2 linked regions of the Homo sapiens genome follow. The protein of the gene in region 2 interacts with the protein of the main gene of each other region in a pairwise test. Each region holds a gene or a part of one and is shown on either strand. Other genes may lie near its edges. The genes, in order: SPINDOC and SPIN3.

Region 1 (8,817 bases), on a different chromosome or scaffold from region 2:
TTGCTATGTTGCCCAGGCTGGTTGTGAACTCCCGGGCTCAAGCAATCCTCCTGCTTCAGCCTCCCAAAGTGCTGGGATTATAGGCATGAGCCACCATGCCCGTTCTAAAGGCCACCCCATCCCCTCAGAACTCGCCTCCCTTCTCAGTGCTCACAGAGCATTTACAGCCATGGTCCCACTCCTATTGCTGCCTGATACCTGCTCTTTGTGTACACAGACAGACCATAAGCTTTCACAGGGCATCACCCTTTCCAGTTCAGCAAAGAAGGCAGCCTTAGACCTGCATCAGCCTGGAAGCTCAGTGCTTTTACGAAGTGCCCATGATCCTTCACGGCTGCATCTCCCTCCTACCTTCCAGAGAGGATGGGACAAAATTAAAACACAGGAGGCCCTAATACCTGGGGGCTGCATGGAAGAGGTGGTATGAGAAATAGGAGCCTCGGCTTGCATGGATACAAGAGGTGGTGTCTGAAAGAGATACGAGATATGTCTTGTACCTATCTCTCATGCGACCATGGGCAGAAATGACCTCTCAGTTGCAATCAGCTTTCTTCCCTACTAGTCTTCCAAAACAGCTCTCATCCAAGTCAGCAGTGCTAAACTCTGCGGTCAGTTTCTCAACTTCATCCTCTGCCGATCACCTCTTCCATCTTGATTTTCATCACTTGCGTCTAGGGCATGACCTTCTGTTGGTTCTTCTTTTGCTTCCCTGGCCCTCTTTCTCAGTTATGTGTGCTAGTTCTTCCTCATCTCTTCTCAATATTCCCTCCCTTCCTCTGGCTTGTTGCTGAAGACCATCTCCCCTCACTAGAGCACCCCATTCCCCTTATGCATCACCTCCAACACAGCACACATCACCACCTGGCACTTGTTTTTGGGATGTTCACTGCCTGTCTCCTTACCACACCATAGCATCCATGACCACGGCCAGGTGCGGTGGCTCACGCCTGAATCCTAGCACTTTGGGAGGCCGAGGTGGGCGGATCACCTGAGGTTGAGAGTTCAAGACCAACCCCACCAACATGGGGAAACCCTATCTCTATTAAAAATACAAAATTAGCTGGGCGTGGTGGCACATGCCTATAATCCCAGTTACTCGGGAGGTTGAGGCAGAAGAATCACTTGAACCCGGGAGGCGAAGGTTGCAGTGAGCCGAGATTGTGCCATTGCACTACAGCTTGGGCAAAAAGAGCAAAACTCCGTCTCAAAAAAAAAAAAAAAATCCATGACCATACAGATTTCTGATGTTTTGCATCTGTATCTCCAGCATCTGTATCTGTATCTCCTCGCATGCAGTGGCATTTAGTAATGTGTGATGAGGGACTGACTCGGTCTCCAACCTGCCATCACTGGAGTTTCCCAGGACTCAGTCCTTAGACACTTCTCTACTTCCTTCTCTTCCCACTGTCTGCCTGCTGGCAATTTCTGTTTACGCCACTAGCTAGATACTTCCAGGAAATCTAGGCCCATGTATCTGACTGCTTAGTTGACCTCTCCACCTGAATATGTCATAAATAGGCATCTCAAACGTAATCATATTCAAACTTTCACTCCCAGTCTCCCAAGAGCACCGCAGCCTTCCCCATCTCGGAAAATGGGAAGGCTCTTCCTCCAGTTGCTCAGGCCAAAAACCTTGAATTCAATCTTTCTTCCTCTCTCCACCGAAATCTTTCCAGAAGCTTGTGCTGCCGGACCTTTGCACTTGCTATTCGGCCTGAAATGCTCTTCCTGCAGATATCTGCAAGGTTGGCATCCTCACTTCCTTCGGGTCTGTGCTCAAAATTCACCTTATTAGAAAACCCTTTCTGAACCACTCGATATATTCAATTAAATACCCATTCCTCCTCTTTCTCCTTTTCCTGCTTTAGTGATCTCTGAACCATTTATTGCCACCCAACATACTATACATGAACCTATTTCTCTGTCTTTAGCCATTGGTATATATATGTTCTTCAAGAGCAGGGTTTCGGTTGCTCTGTTTACTACTACTTCCCAGCCTAAAAACACTAGCCTAAACAGCCTAAAGTAGACGTCCAGTGAATATTGGTTGAATGAATTCACCTGTCTATTCCTGCCCTAACAGTGGGGATAAGGCCACCCTTGCAGGGTTGAGAGGATTAACTGAGACAGCCTCTGACAATGCCCAATGAACACTCAACAAATATTAGCAGAAGTAGGAAAACAACCTATCTTTTGGACTAAATGCTCCGAGAAGGGAGGTGACCTTTATTTCCCTCATGAATTTTATAACCCTTCCAGTTCCAAAAAGGATGACAGGCAGTGCAGGCAGACATCATTCTGTTCGGCTGAAGTTCAATGAATGGCATTGCTGCTCTCAACCTCTTTTGGGTACTATCCCGCCTAAGAAAAGCGGGGTGGGAGAATGGAAATATATTTGCATTTTCATGCATATTAAGTCTCCCACAAAGATGGCTCTTTGTTTTCTTACGGTTTGCAAGCTCCTGAGGACTAGAAATCGGTGAAGGGGGAGGGGAGAGCGAGTGTTCTGAGATTGTTCCTCCCATCCCCTCCCAAAGCTAATCTCGTTCTAGCACTGCACTGCTTTTCCAAACTAGCTGTTGTATGCAGTCCCATTCATCCCTTCTCTCCAGAACTTGACACCTGTGGCTCCTGCAAGTGGAAGGCCCGGGAATGGGAATGAAGCGGGGTGGTGGGCAGGGAAGCGTTATGCTCGGAGAGCCCTTAAAATTCTCCTGGAGGTCGGCAGCGGCGCCCGCCTGTAGCCTCCGGCCTAGAGGCTTCGCCGCCCCTCGGACTAGAACACAGCCCGGCCGTTGTGCTTGCCTCCCCTTCCCAGGCTGTGAGACGGCGGCCGCAACCACCCAGCGCCTCTGGGGATCCGGCCTCTGGTGCTGGGCCCGGGAGAGGGGGCGCTTGGGCACCGGAAGATCCGGAGCGTGCGGGGCGTGGATCGAAGTCTCCAGACCCTGGGCGGGGGAAAGGGGAAGGGAGGGGGAAATCGAGGAGGCCTGAGCTTCTAAACCATGGTGGGGGAGGTGCAAGAGCGCGCCCTGGACCCAGATCCGAGAGGGAAACCTGGGCCCCAAGGCTGAAGGGGGTGAGAAGGTGCCCGGGTCCCGGACCCCGACTGGGGAGGGACGGCCCCAGCCCCGGCCCCGCACCGTGACGCGGAAGTGGAATCCCCTCCATCCTCACCTCTGAGCATCGGCTCGGGCCGCGGAATTACGGCCACCACCATGGCCTCCTCCTCGTCCTCCCCTTCCTCGCATTTCAGCGTCACCTCGAAGCAGTCGAGTGCGGCGCCCTCGGCCTTTAGGGCCATGGTGCGGCCGTGGGCGATAGCAGTGGCCGGAGGACTGGCGCGCAGGCTTCGGCGCGCAGCCGGCAACCGCCTCCCGCCTCCTGGCCGGAATAGCGCCGGGCCCGCCGCCCGCCCCGCGCAGCCCCCTCCCCGCCGCCCGCCCGCCGCTCGCCGGCCGGGCCTGCGACCGGCGCGTCCGGGCCTCCCCGAGACCTCGGCGCGTCGGGAGCCCGGGCGGGGAGGGCTCAATCCGGGGCCCCTGCCCCCCGCCGCTCCCTTTTATGGAGGCTCATTGTCGGCGCCCGCCCGGCCGGCCAGCCGCGGACCCGCCCCCGATGCCGCGCGGCCAATCGCGCGTGGCCCCGCCCCGGGCACGCGGCCCCGTTAGAAACCCTGGACCCGGGAGGCGGCGGGAAGGGCCGAGGGGACCCGGGGCCACCCGGTGCGCAGAGGCAGAGGGGCCCCCAAAACCCGCAACGCGGGCCCCTCAGTCTGCGGGCCAAGCCCGGGGTTTCCCTCCATTAAGAAGTCAGTTGGGCGTTTCTGCTGGCGTGGAGAGCGCTACCAGGTGCCCCCGGATTTTGATCGGGAGTCGCTTTTGCCTTTCCGTGGACAAGCCTTCCTCCGCCAGCAGATGCCCCGGGCAGGAAGAGAAGCGGTGGGTGAGTGGAAAGGGCCTTGGTATGGAAACGCAGAGACCGAATTCCTTCTCATCTGCCAGCTCCGTGGCCGTGGGCACATTATCTGTTTTCTTAGTCCGGCTCATCGTTTCTTTCAAAAACCATTTTGGACCCTTCTGGGAAGGCAAAGAAGAGAAGCAGAGTGGACTGTGAGCGGACATAAACCACCCTGATGGGTATGATTTCCATTTTTGGCACGGGAGTCCGGAGATTTTGTGACCCTCTCCAAGGACACACAGCAATCCCTTGAGAGCCCCAAGACCAGAGTCCAGTTGCCATGACATTGCTGCCCTATAACCACACTCTGGGTGAGCTTTTACTTCTGTGACATGGAATGTGCATCTCCCTCTTCTATAGCAACCCTCATGAGATTTCAGCTCAGAAAATGCAAAATGTCTGACACTGAAAATCCATCTTCGAATGTCGTTATATCAGACCAGACACAGTAGTATTCAGAATCGCGTAGTAGGATGGGGGTGTGAGAAGAGGTGTGAACTAGTCTATATGGATTGCAGTCAATTTTTTAATTTTTTTTTTTTTGAGACAGAGTCTCGCTCTGTCACCAGGCTGGAGTGCAGTGGCGCTATCTCGGCTCACCACAACCTCCGCCTCCCAGGTTCAAGCTATTCTCCCGCCTCAGCCTCCTGGGTAGCTGGGACTACAGGCACGTGCCACCATGCCCGGCTAATTTTTGTATTTTTAGTAGAGACGGGGTTTCAGCATGTTGGCCAGGATGGTCTTGATCTCTTGACCTCATCATCCGTCTGCCTCGGCCTCCCAAAGTGGGATTACAGGCGTGAGCCACCGCGCCTGGCCTTGCAGTCTATTTTTAAGGGAATTATTTTGTTATGTGCAAGTGTATCTGATATTTTAAAGGTTTTACAACAAAGGTATTACCAAGCCTGTTTAACTATTTCTGCTGAATGGTCATTCTCTACCATTTGCTACAGATCCCTTCCGTGCCCCTCTGCTCTGCTCTGTATTGCAGTGGGCTGAGTCTTGCGGGGGGCAGTTTCTCAGGCTCCCAGAGCATCTGGCTTCAGGCCTCGGTTTAGCCAATGGGAGGCAGTGGCAGGAGAAGAGAAGGCAGGAGGAAAGAAAGAGCCATGGTATTTCTTCTCTTTCTCTCTCTTGCTCAGGCTCAGGTGACATCTCCAGCAGCAGATGAGGCCTCTCTGTGGCTCCAGCTCATGGATAGGTAGCTGTGGTCCCAACATCTGTAGGATGATCCATGCCCCTGGGCTCTACTCAGTCCACCTCCTCTTTTTGTCCCTGCAGGTTAGGAGTTGTAGGCAGCTTCTTGCTTTTGCCAGTCTCTGTACTGCCTCTCTCTGTCCCCTGCTGGGCTTTCCAGACCTCCCTGTTAACCCCTGTTAATCGTGTCACCAAAACCCTGCATTACATTCTCTCTGTTTTCAATACTTAAAGTGGTTCCCTCCTGGCGGGGCGCAGTGGCTCCCAACTGTAATCCCAGCAGTTTGGGAGGCCAAGGCAGGTGGATCACTTGAGGTCAGGAGTTCGAGACCAGCCTGGCCAACATGGTGAAACCCTGTCTCTACCATAAGAAAAAAGAAAAAAGAAATTAGCCCGGCATGGTGGTGTGTGCCTGTAATCCCAGCTACTTACGAGGTTGAGTCAGGAAGATTGCTTGAGCCCAGGAGGCGGAGGTTGCAGTGAGCCAAGATCATGCCGCTGCACTTGACTCCAGCCTGGGCGACAGAGCTAGATTGTCTCAAAAAAAAAGTGGTTCCTATTTTCCTGGTTGAACCTTGAGTGATACACCCAGTATTGTACCACCCAATTAGTAGACATTATTTCTTTTAGGTCATATTATTCTCAGCTTATAGAGCAAGAAGTTGAAGCTTAAAGGGTTAGATTACTTGCCCAAGGTAATACAGCAAGAATCTTATTTCATCCAACCTAGAGTGAATATTTCCCCCACATTTTAATATCCCTCAAATGGTGATGCTTTCTATAATCAACATCAACGTGAAGTTTAGGACTGAAGTTTAGGACTATCAAGAAAGTGAAAGATGGCTTTTCTGGCATTCAGACTGTGCTGTTACCAGCAGAAAGTAAGCTATGTTTAGAATGAGACATAGATGAAGCCACTTCATGACCACAAAGTGACTTCGCCTTTTTTTTTTTTTTTTTTTTTGAAATGGAGTCTCACTCTGTCACCCAACCTGGAGCGCAGTGGTGCAATCTCGGCTCACTGCAACCTCCGCCTCCCGGGCTCAAGCAATTCTCTGCCTCAGCCTCCCAAGCAGCTGGGATTACAGGCGCCTGCCACCACACTTGGCTAATTTTTGTATTTTTAGTAGAGTCAGGGTTTCACCATCTTGTCCAGGCTGGTCTTGAACTCTGACCTTGTGATCCTCCTGCCTCGGCCTCTCAAAGTGCTGGGATTACAGGCGCGAGCTACTGCTTCCGGCCTTTTTTTTTTTTTTTAAAACGGAGTTTTGTTCTTGTTGCCCAGGCTGGAATGCAATGGCGCAATCTCAGCTCACTACAACCTCCGCCTCCCAGGTTCAAGATTCTCCTGCCTCAGCCTGCCGAGTAGCTGGGATTACAGGCATGCGCCATCACACCTGGCTAATTTTGTATTTTTAGTAGAGACGGGGTTTCTCCATGTTGGTCAGGCTGGTCTCGAACTCCGACCTCAGGTGATCCGCTTGTCTCGGCCTCCCAAAGTGCTGGGATTATAGGTGTGAGCCGCTGCTCCTGGCCGACTTTGCCTTTTTTTAAAAAAAGAATTTTTTTTTTTTTAGAGATGGGGTTTCACCATGTTGTCCAGGCTGGACTCAAGCAATCCACCTGCCTCAGCCTCCCAAAGTGCTGGAAAGTAGGTGTGCGCTACTGTGCCCGGCCTGACTTCACCTTTTTTGGAGCAATTGCTATTTCTCTTTAGCAAAAATTACTGTAGTCCAGGCTGGGCGTGGTGGCTTACACCTGTAATCTCAGCACTTTGGGAGGCCAAGGCGGGCTGATCACTTGAACCCGGGAGGCAGAGGTTGTAGTGAGTCGAGATTGCGCCACCGCAATCCAGCCTGGGTGACAGAGCGAGACTCCATCTCCAAAAAAAAAAAAAAAAAAGATACCCAGTTTCTGAACTGCCCCTGTTTCTTGACAGCATTCAATCCTGAACCAGTTCCATTTCCCTAATTCTTCCATAGAACTATGGGAACGAGGCCAAATTTAAGGAGTTTCCTGAGGGTGCCTTGAGGGTTTCCCTGGGATGTATTCTCCTTCACTGCAGCAAATTAAACCTAATTTTGGTTACAAGTGTGTTCCTGGTGGTCCTTGGTCACAGGGCTTTGACAACCCCAACCAATTTATTTTGCCTACATTTTCATGTATATGAAGAGTGATATATCATGAAAACCTATGTTAAAATATCAACAAATCTAGGGCCAGGTGCAGTGGCTCACACCTATAATCCCAGCACTTTGGGAGGTCAAGGCGGGAGGCCAGGAGTTCGCAACCAGCCTGGCTAACATGTCCAAACCCAGTTGCTACAAAAAATACAAAAATTAGCTGGATGGCTGGGCGTGGTGGCGCACGCCTGTAATCCCAGCACTTTGGGAAGTCAAGGCGGTTGGATCACCTGAGATTCGGAGTTCGAGACCAGCGTGGCCAACATGGTGAAACCCTGTCTCTACTAAAAATGCAAATAATTAGTCGGGTGTGATGGCGGGCACCTGTAATCCCAGCTACTCAGGAGGCAGAGGCAGGAGAATCGCCTGAACCCAGGAGGCGCAGGTTGCAGTGAGCTGAGATTGTGCCATTGTACTGCAGCCTGGGCAACAAGAGGGAAACTCCATCTCAAAAAAAAAAAAAAAAAAAAAATTGCCAGGCACAGTGGCTCATGTCTCTAATCCCAGCACTTTGAGAGGCCGAGGCAGGGGAATCACCTGAGGTCAGCAGTTCGAGACCGTCCTGGCTAACATGGTGAAACCCCATCTCTATTAAAAGTACAAAAAATCAGTCGGGTCTGGTGGTGGGCCCCTGTAATCCCAGCTACTCAGGAGGCTGAGGCAGGAGAATCACTTGAACCCAGGAGGTGGAGCTTGCAGTGAGCTGAGATTGGGCCATTGCACTCCAGGCTGAGCAACAAGAGCAAAACTCTGTCTCAAAAAAAAAAAAGGCCGGGCGTGGTGGCTCATGCTTGTAATCCCAGCACTTTGGGAGGCCGAGGTGGGTGGATCATGAGATCAGGAGATCGAGACCATCCTGGCTAACATGGTGAAACCCCATCTCTACTAAAAATACAAAAAATTAGCTGGGCGTGGTGTCAGGCGCCTGTAGTCCCAGCTACTTGGGAGGCTGAGGCAGGAGAATGGCATGAACCTGGGAGGTGGAGCTTGCAGTGAGCCGATCTCACGCCACTGCACTCCAGCCTGGGCGACAGAGTGAGACTCCGTCTCAAAAAAAAAAAAAAAAAAATTAGCTTGGTGTGGTGGAGTGCCCCTGTAATCCCAGCTACCTTGATGTCTGAGGCATGAGAATCGCTTGAATCTGGGAGTTGGAGGTTGCAGTGATCTGTGATTGTGCTACTGCACTCCTGCCTCGGCACTCCTGCCTCGGTGACAGGGCAAGACTCTGTCTCAAAAAAAAAAAAGAAAAAAAATCTGCAAGTCTAAAAGAGCTCTTTTTTTTGTTGTTGTTGGGACAGAGTCTCACTCTGTCTCCCAGGCTGGAGTACAGTGGCACGATCTCGGCTCACTGCAACCTCCATCTCCCAGGTTTCAGTGACTCTCCCATCTCAGCCTCCTGAGTACCTGTGATTACAGGCGTCCGCCATCACACCCGGCTAATTTTTTGTATTTTTAGTAGAGATGGGGTTTCACCATG
Region 2 (8,706 bases):
AGCTGACAACAATTATACAATGACTCCCAAAGATAGCATTAAAATACTCCAAATAATACAATATCAACAACATAATAAAAATGCCTTAGTTTGAACTATATGACCTCACCCCCACCCCATCAACTATTAAACTCCAAGGGAAAAAGGACTGCCCAAAATTAAATTTCTAATTCAAAGTCCAAAATAATTAAAGTCCAAAATTCTGCCTTTCCCAATTTCTCGTTTTTCTCATTTCAGCCATATAGATCTCACAAAGATGTCTGCCCAGATATGGGGTTCCTTCAGCAGCTGCAGCCTTGGCTGTCTTCCTCTTGACTGGGTGAAGTTCCTTCAGGACCTCAGGAGTTGAATTAATCTAACCCCACAATTGCATGTCATACATATTAAAGAGTCCAAAGGGTCAAGAAGACATAAGATTATCACAATATCAACCTCACATCAAAAAAATTAGAAAGCACACTAGTCCCCAGCCACTAGAACAGTTTTTTTAAGCAAATATATGACCCCAGGACTTAGAACATAGGGCAATACAGACCCACATTGCTGTTGTCAGTCAAACATCATAGTAGAGACTTAGTGGCATCAAAAAGCAAAAGTAGACAGATAAAACATAGGAGAAAAGAGAACATCTTCTTTGTTTCATCCTCAGCAGGATGCCAATCTGTGCCGGTAGTCTGGACTCCATGACCTGTGAACTTAAACTAATTTGGAAGATATCTTGCAGTACAGTCCCAATATGATTGTACTGCCTTGAGTCCCAGCCCCAAATGTGCAGAACTCCATGGCCTTATTAGGCTGTTACTGCTAATGGAGCTTCTGTGAGAACCTCAATGAGAAAGCTTTGGTTTTGGCCAGGTGCTTCTCTCAAAAACCATGCTTGTACTTCAACTTTTCTTTCCTAGGCTTTGGTTAACCTCCGCCAATGGCTCTTTAATAATGGAAAGCTCAAAGGCCCTTCCATTGTTTACTTTTCTGCCACAGTAGAACTCACCCTTATCTGCATATAAGTTTCTTAGGGCCAGCCAAGAAACAGGATAGTTAAAAATCCAAACACTAACAAAAATCTATTAGATTTCTATCTACCAATGCCAGCACTTAAAACATCATTAAGCCTACAGATTACCTACCACTGACTGTGTTCCAAGTCCTGCTGGGATACCATAATAGATGAGCCCACCAGTCCCTGCAAGGAAGTATAGCCTGCTTTCAGCCATTCTTGGTTCTCACAAGTGCCTTGCCCACCTCACATGCTGGGACTCTGAATTCAGTCTCCTAAGAATCAAATCTAAAACTTGAGTCTCTCTTAGCACAGCAAAGAAATCTGTATCTCAGTTTGATTCTAGGTTTCTCCTCTTTCATTTTGAGGTTCTGGACAGATCTGTCCAAACCCAGCCAAACCCAGCCTTTGCCTGTGACTGAGGGCTCTAGCTAGAGCCTGGCTTAATGCTCCTCTGGGCTGGCAAAGACCATTTGTGCTAAAGTCTGCCTGCACAGCTTCTATCAGTTAAAACCTACTCCATGTCTGCAGATACCAGCCAGAGCTATTGGAGACAAGAGAGACCCTAATGCCACTGATGACTAAAACCTTTCACTTAAGCTCCACCAGAAATCTTGATCTCTCCACTTGGAGTTTGGTCCCCAAATGCTTGTCTTCTTATCAGTTTTGCAAGGTTTCTCAGCCTATGGTTAGGTACTAAAATGCAAAGTAATTACCTTCTTAATTCTAAAACAGTTGAGCAATAGGTGAAAGAACCGGAAAGAGAGCAAAATTATTAGCCTTACTTTTAGTACAGTTAGAACTGAGAATGCAACTTGAACAAGAGACCAAAATGGGCTTCCCACTCTTTCCCAAGTTAGATTTTTGAAGCCACTTGGGGGAGATTTGAGATTGCAAAGACACTTACCCAGCCAGTCACATGGGATATCTCAGCAAGCTTCACACCTCAATGAGTGTAGAGTCCAAGTGCCAAAAAGAGTGAGGTGAGAGGTGTTCAGCTACCTTTAATCTATTAACACCACCCAAGATAAAAAAAAGTATGAGCCAATGGATGTCAGACTTTACCCTTCTCACTAATCAGTTAAATTGCGGAGAGGAACCAGTGAAAAGGTTGGACAGATGGGCAAAAGGTTTCTTCCAAAAACGTATGAGAGGGCAGAAGTTCCAATTTTTTTGCCAAGCAAAACGTGCAAAAAGGGAGAAGATGGTTCTTACAAACTGGAAAGCAATCAAGACTTTCTGTGTCTACAGATTTAGAGTCTCATATATTTGGCAAATTTCAAGATGACCTCTAAGATGTTTTTACCAAATCGTAGACATAGATATGGAAATCATCATCAAATTTGATGAAGTACACAGAGGGTTTTGCTTCTACCTGATGAATGACCATGCCAGTTCTCTTGGAGCCATCGTCTTTGGCGTATTCCACCTGTTTGCCTACCAGGCTGTCTATGACTTCTCCTGGCTCCCTCTCTGCCAGAGGAGAATCATTGGAATCTTGAAGGATGCGGAGGTCACCATCTTTATAATCATCTAAGAGCTGGTACATATATAATACAGGATCTTTCTCATAGGTAATGTAAAACCATGTGTTCATGACAGGTGCCTGAGCTAAGACCATCCCCCTCCATTCATTTTTGGAACCTTCCTCTGTCTCAAAAATATGTTCCACTGCTTTGCCAACCATTATTTCTGCCAAGTGTGTATCACTGATTCTAGATGATGCAACTCTATTAGGAAGGACTTCAAGTGATGACACTCTTTCATCTCTGTGAAGTTCCAATCCATAAACACAGTCAAATCCATCATATTTGATAAGATACAGAGAGGGATTTACAGGTACCTGATCCAGAACGGTTCCTTTCCACTGTGTTAGAGGTTCATCTCCATCTTTCCATCCGTGCTGAATTCTGCAGCCCACGATGTTCCCCCGAGGCTGGGAGGTGGGTCGGCTCCTATGCTTCTTGTGTGCAGCCTTCCTCTTTATCATGGTAACAGACACACTGCCGTGGCCAGCGCCCGTCCTGGACCGCTGCCCTGCAGCTGCCTTTCCAAACGGGGTCTTCATGCCTGCGAAGAGGAGCACAGTTGCCAGGTGGACCGAGAAAGGAAATTAACAAAATCAATGCATAACACGGAGAGCTTTTTCTCCTAATCAGCGCACCCAGTAAACCCACACCTGTTTTTCCCGAAAGCTAGATAGCAAAGCTGGAAATCAAGGCACCCTGGCTGAGTGCCTGCAGTAACCTTCCTCCCCAGCTCAGTCTGGCTAAGATCTGCGGTTCGGTGAAATACGAAGCGTTTCCCCATTCCCCTCGCCCTGCTTCCAACACTACCCGGCCAGGAGGCGCAGATTCCCCACCGTCCCGGATTGCGGGCCTCAAGTGCACAAATCGGACACCTCGCCGTTGCCTCCGCAGTGAGCCTATGGAGGAGGAAAATCAGCGGGCGAGCAGCCCGGTGCTTGCAAAAGCTGGGAGAGGATGATCCATAGGCAATGAGTGTCTCTAAGAGGGCGGCGGGGCAGGCGAAGATGACCGTGGCGGCGTCCCTTGCTCTTGGCTCCTGCGTCCTCCGCCTTCCTGGTGGCGGCGGCGGTGGCGGTGGCCGCAGCCCCTCTCCCACATCGGACTCCCACTAGTCGCTGCTGCGCCGCAGTCTCCTCCTTCTTTTTCTAGCGCAGCTTCCGGTCAGTAGAGAGGCCTCCCCTTCCTGCCAAACACCGCGTGGCGCCCCTCCCCCACCAACCTGTACCACAGCCCTGGGCGTGGAAGGTGCTCCTAGGCTCTCGGTCTCGCAGCTTCCTCCAAATCAGAAGCTGTGGAGCCCACAACCACCTCTCTCTCACTGCATTGGTTTACCTCTTCTGGTTTAGCACGCGCCCCTCCCCTCACCTAACCTCAACCCTCTGCGCCCCTGCCCCTTCTGCTTTCCACCTTTCAGGAATTAGCCCTTTCCTTTCCCCTCCCTCCCCGCGTCCCCCCACCCTCCATTGAAGGGGATTTGTGGTAGGACAAGAGAAATGCGCTACTGCTCAGTGTTCAGGCTGCCATCTTGACCCAATCTACGTAATTTTTACTGACTTGTCATTCCCAGACTTAACTTCTTGAGGATTTCTTTTCTTTTCCCCTGATTGCAAAAGAATTGCATGCACAATATTGACACTGTAAAATTCAGAAAATTGACATGAAGAGAAAATAATTAACTAAGCCGGCCTCCCATTTTCCAGGGCTCACAGTGAAATATTAACACTATTTCCTTTTCCTTTTTTCTAAGCTCTTACAAAGCTTGGATAATTTTGAATATGCACTTTCATGTCCTGCTCATTTCCATGTAGAATAAACATTTGCTCAATTTTTTAGATATTTTCTGAGAACATGTTTTGTAGTAGCTTCATAAAATTAAGCATTAGGATTTTTCATAATTTTGCCGTTGCCTCCTATCTTCAGACGTTTAATTGTTAAATACCTATAAATTGTGCTTGCGCATGAATTATTCTGTTCACTTGAACAGAATAACCTAGACACTAAACTTAGAACAATTGCTATAATTAAAACAGGAATTTGTGAGATCATAAATCTGTGGAGAAAGACATTTTAGAAGTGATTCAATCAGTTTTATCGTTACAGCCATCCTAGTGGGTATGAAGTGGTACCTAATTGTGGTTTTAATTTGCATTTCTCTAATGACTAATGAGGATGAGCATCTTTTTGTGTGCTTGTTGGACATTTGTGTATCTTTGGAGAAATGTCTATTTCAAGTGCTTTGTTCATTTTTTAAATGAATTGTTTGTAGCAGGGCTGTTAATTGTTCTTTTTAAATTCTGGATGAGAGAACCTTATCAGATATATGATATGAAAATATTTTATCCCGTTTTGTGGGGTGTCTTCACTTTCTTGATAGTATTTTTGATGCACAAAAGCTTAAAACTTGGTTGTGCGTTTGGAGTCACACCTAAATAAACACTGCCAAATCCAAGTTCATGAAAATGTACCCCTATATTTTCTTGTAAAATTTTGTTTGTTTTTAGCTCTTATATTTATGTCTTTGACCCATTTTGAGTTAATTATTATGTATGGTGTGATGAAGGGGACCAAATTCATTGTTTTGCACATGGATATCCAGTTGTCTCAGCACCTTCTGTTGAAGAGACAATTCTTAGCCTTTTTAATTGTCTTGGCATACTTGTTGAAAATCAATTTAGTACAGATGTATAGGCTTATATCTGGACTCTTAATTCTATTTCATAGAATTTTATGCAAAAACCACGTTTTTAATTTATCTTTATGCAAGAACCACATTTATTTTTTGATTACTGTAACTGTGCAGTATGTTTGAAATCAGTAAGTGTGATTTCTCTGAAAATATTATTAAGATTGTATTGGCTACTCATGCTCCTTTTTTTTTTTTTTTTTTTTTTTTTTTTTTGAGACAGAGTCTTGCTCTGTCGCCCAGGCTAGAGTGCAGTGGCACAATCTCGGCTCACTGCAACCTCCACCTCCCGGGTTCAAGCGATTCTCCTGTCTCACCATCCTGAGTATCTGGGGTTACAGGCATGTACCACCATGCTCAGCTAATTTCATAGTTCCTTTCAATTTCATATGAATTTTAGGATTGTCTTTTCCTTTTCTGAACAAAAGGACTGTTGGGATTTTGATAAGGGTTGCACTGACTCTGCAGATAAACTTGGGAAGTATTGTTATCTCAACAATATTGTCTTACAATCCATGAACACAGAGTTTCCAGAGGGCATAATTTCCCACAAACAGAGTTTCCTATGAACACTGGGTATCTTGCAATTTATTTAGATCTTCTTTAAATTATTTCAGCAATGTTTTATAGTTTTGGTTAGATTTATTTCTAAGTTATTTTATTATTTTTGACGCTATGGTAAATGGAATTGTTTACTGTGATATTGTGAAATATATATTTGCTCTTTGATCTCCTTTTCTGGCATACAGCCCCTAAAACCCTTGAAGTATCCTGAGAGATAAGAGTGTCTTTTGTATGCTAATAAGATGACTGATGATTGGCAGCCCCTAGATAGCTTCAGGATGTGGGCTGTTCACGGCAAAGACCAGGGCATGATTAGAAGATTGGAGCAGAGAGGAGTTAAAGGTTGAATCGATCACCAATGGCTCATGATGTCTACATAATGAAGCCTTCATAAGAACCCAAAATAACAAGGTTAAGAGAGCTTTGGAAGCATATCTAGAACTATATGATCTTTGACAAACCTGACAAAAACAAGCAATGGGGAAAGGATTCCCTATTTAATAAAAGGTGCTGGGAAAACTGGCTAGCCATATGTAGAAAGCTGAAACTGGATCCCTTCTTTACACCTTATACAAAAATTAATTCAAGATGGATTAAAGACTTAAATGTTAGACCTAAAAACCATAAAAACCCTAGAAGAAAACCTAGCCATTACCATTCAGGACACAGGCATGGGCAAGGACTTCATGTCTAAAACACCAAAAGCAATGGCAACAGAAGCCAAAATTGACAAATGGGATCTAATTAAACTAAAGAGCTTCTGCACAGCAAAAGAAACTACCATCAGAGTGAACAGGCAACCTACAGAATGGGAGAAAATTTTCGCAACCTACTCATCTGACAAAGGGCTAATATCCAGAATCTACAATGAACTCAAACAAATTTACAAGAAAAAAACAAACAACCCCATCAAAAAGTGGGCAAAGGACATGAACAGACACTTCTCAAAAGAAGACATTTATGCAGCCAAAAAAACACATGAAAAAATGCTCACCATCACTGGCCATCAGAGAAATGCAAATCAAAACCACAATGAGATACCATCTCACACCAGTTAGAATGGCAATCATTAAAAAGTCAGGAAACAACAGGTGCTAGAGAGGATGTGGAGAAATAGGAACACTTTTACACTGTTGGTGGGACTGTAAACTAGTTCAACCCTTGTGGAAGTCAGTGTGGTGATTCCTCAGGGATCTAGAACTAGAAATACCATTTGACCCAGCCATGCCATTACTGGGTATATACCCAAAGGACTATAAATCATGCTGCTATAAAGACACATGCACATGTATGTTTATTGCGGCACTATTCACAATAGCAAAGACTTGGAACCAACCCAAATGTCCAAAAATGATAGACTGGATTAAGAAAATGTGGCACATATACACCATGAAATACTATGCAGCCATAAAAAATGATGAGTTCATGTCCTTTGTAGGGACATGGATGAAATTGGAAATCATCATTCTCAGTAAACTATCGCAAGAACAAAAAACCAAACACCGCATATTCTCACTCATAGGTGGGAATTGAACAATGAGAACACATGGACACAGGAAGGGGAACATCACACTCTGGAGACTGTTGTGGGGTGGGGGGAGGGGGGAGGGATAGCATTAGGAGATATACCTAATGCTAAATGACGAGTTAATGGGTGCAGCACACCAGCATGGCACATGTATACATATGTAACTAACCTGCACATTGTGCACATGTGCCCTAAAACTTAAAGTATAATAATAATAAAATTAAAAAAAAAAGAGAGAGCTTTGGGATAGCTGAACACGTGGAGGTTCCTGAAGGGTGGCTCACTTGAACAGGGCATGGAAGTTTGGTACCCCATTCCACATACCTTGCCCAATGTATCTCTTCCTTCTGGGTGTTCATCTGTATCTTTTGTAATATCCTTTACAATAAATGGGTAAATGTAAGTAAAGTGTTTCCCTGAGTTCTGTGAGCTGCTCTAGCAAATTAATTGAATGAGAACCCTGATTTATAGTTGGTCTGTTAGAAGTACAGATCATAATCTGGAACTTGTAATTGGCATCTAAAGTGCAGGGCAGTCTTGTGGGATTGAGCCCTCATGATTTTTAAGCCTTGATATTGTATCTTGTCTTAGTTCAGGCTGTTATAACAAATTACCATAGAATGAGTGGCTGAAACAATAAACATATATTTCTCACAGTTCTGGAGACTGGGTCTCCAGATAAGTCCAAGATAAGAAGTACAGGCCAATTTCGTTCCCTGGGGATAGGCCCTCTTTCTGGTTCCAAATGGCTATCTTCTCATTATACCCTCACATGGTGGAGAGCAGAGAGAGAGCTAGCTCTCTGGCTACTTCTTATAAGAGCATTAATCCCATCCATAGGGGCTCTACCCTCATGACCTAATTATCTCCCAAAGGCTCCATCTTCAAATATTATCACACTGGAGATTAGGCTTTAACATATACATTTAGGGGACAGGGCCACAAACATTCAATCCATAGCATGTCCTGAAATTTGACTGAATCCTTTTAATCATTTCAGTAGTTACTAATGGATTCTTTGGGATCATCTCTATATACAATGGTATTATCAGTAAATAAAGATAGTTTTACATTTTCCTAATATGGATAACTTTTATTTACTTATTTTCTTACTTGATTGCCCTGTCTAGAACCTACTGCAGTACAATGCTGAATGGAAATAGTGAGGGGGCATTCTTGTCCTCTTCTTATACTTAGGGGGAGAGGTTTCAGCCTTTCCCTGTTGAATGTGAATTTAGCTCTTTTTTTAATGCATATATGTCTCTTATCTTGAAGAAGTTCCCTTCTATTCCTAGTTTGTTGACAGGTTTATTATTATTATTATTAGAGGGTGTTGGATTTTGTCAAATGCTTTCTTGTGTCAATTGAGATAATCATTTTTTTCCCTTCATCCTATTGAGGTGTA

The links.
Region 1: the proteins of SPIN3 (region 2) and SPINDOC interact in binary tests that used the Homo sapiens proteins (3 or more experiments, as listed by UniProt).

Annotation. Positions count from the first base shown.
Region 1 is NC_000011.10:63,808,174-63,816,990, reverse strand, and holds the start of SPINDOC (spindlin interactor and repressor of chromatin-binding protein), read right to left. Parts: upstream 3,536-8,817; 5' UTR 3,305-3,535; coding exon 3,178-3,304; intron 1-3,177. UniProt on the Homo sapiens protein: Chromatin protein that stabilizes SPIN1 and enhances its association with histone H3 trimethylated at both 'Lys-4' and 'Lys-9' (H3K4me3K9me3).
Region 2 is NC_000023.11:56,991,883-57,000,588, forward strand, and holds the start of SPIN3 (spindlin-3), read right to left. Parts: upstream 3,660-8,706; 5' UTR 3,334-3,659; exon of another isoform or gene 3,177-3,333; intron 3,068-3,176; 5' UTR 3,066-3,067; coding exon 2,289-3,065; 3' UTR 1-2,288. UniProt on the Homo sapiens protein: Exhibits H3K4me3-binding activity.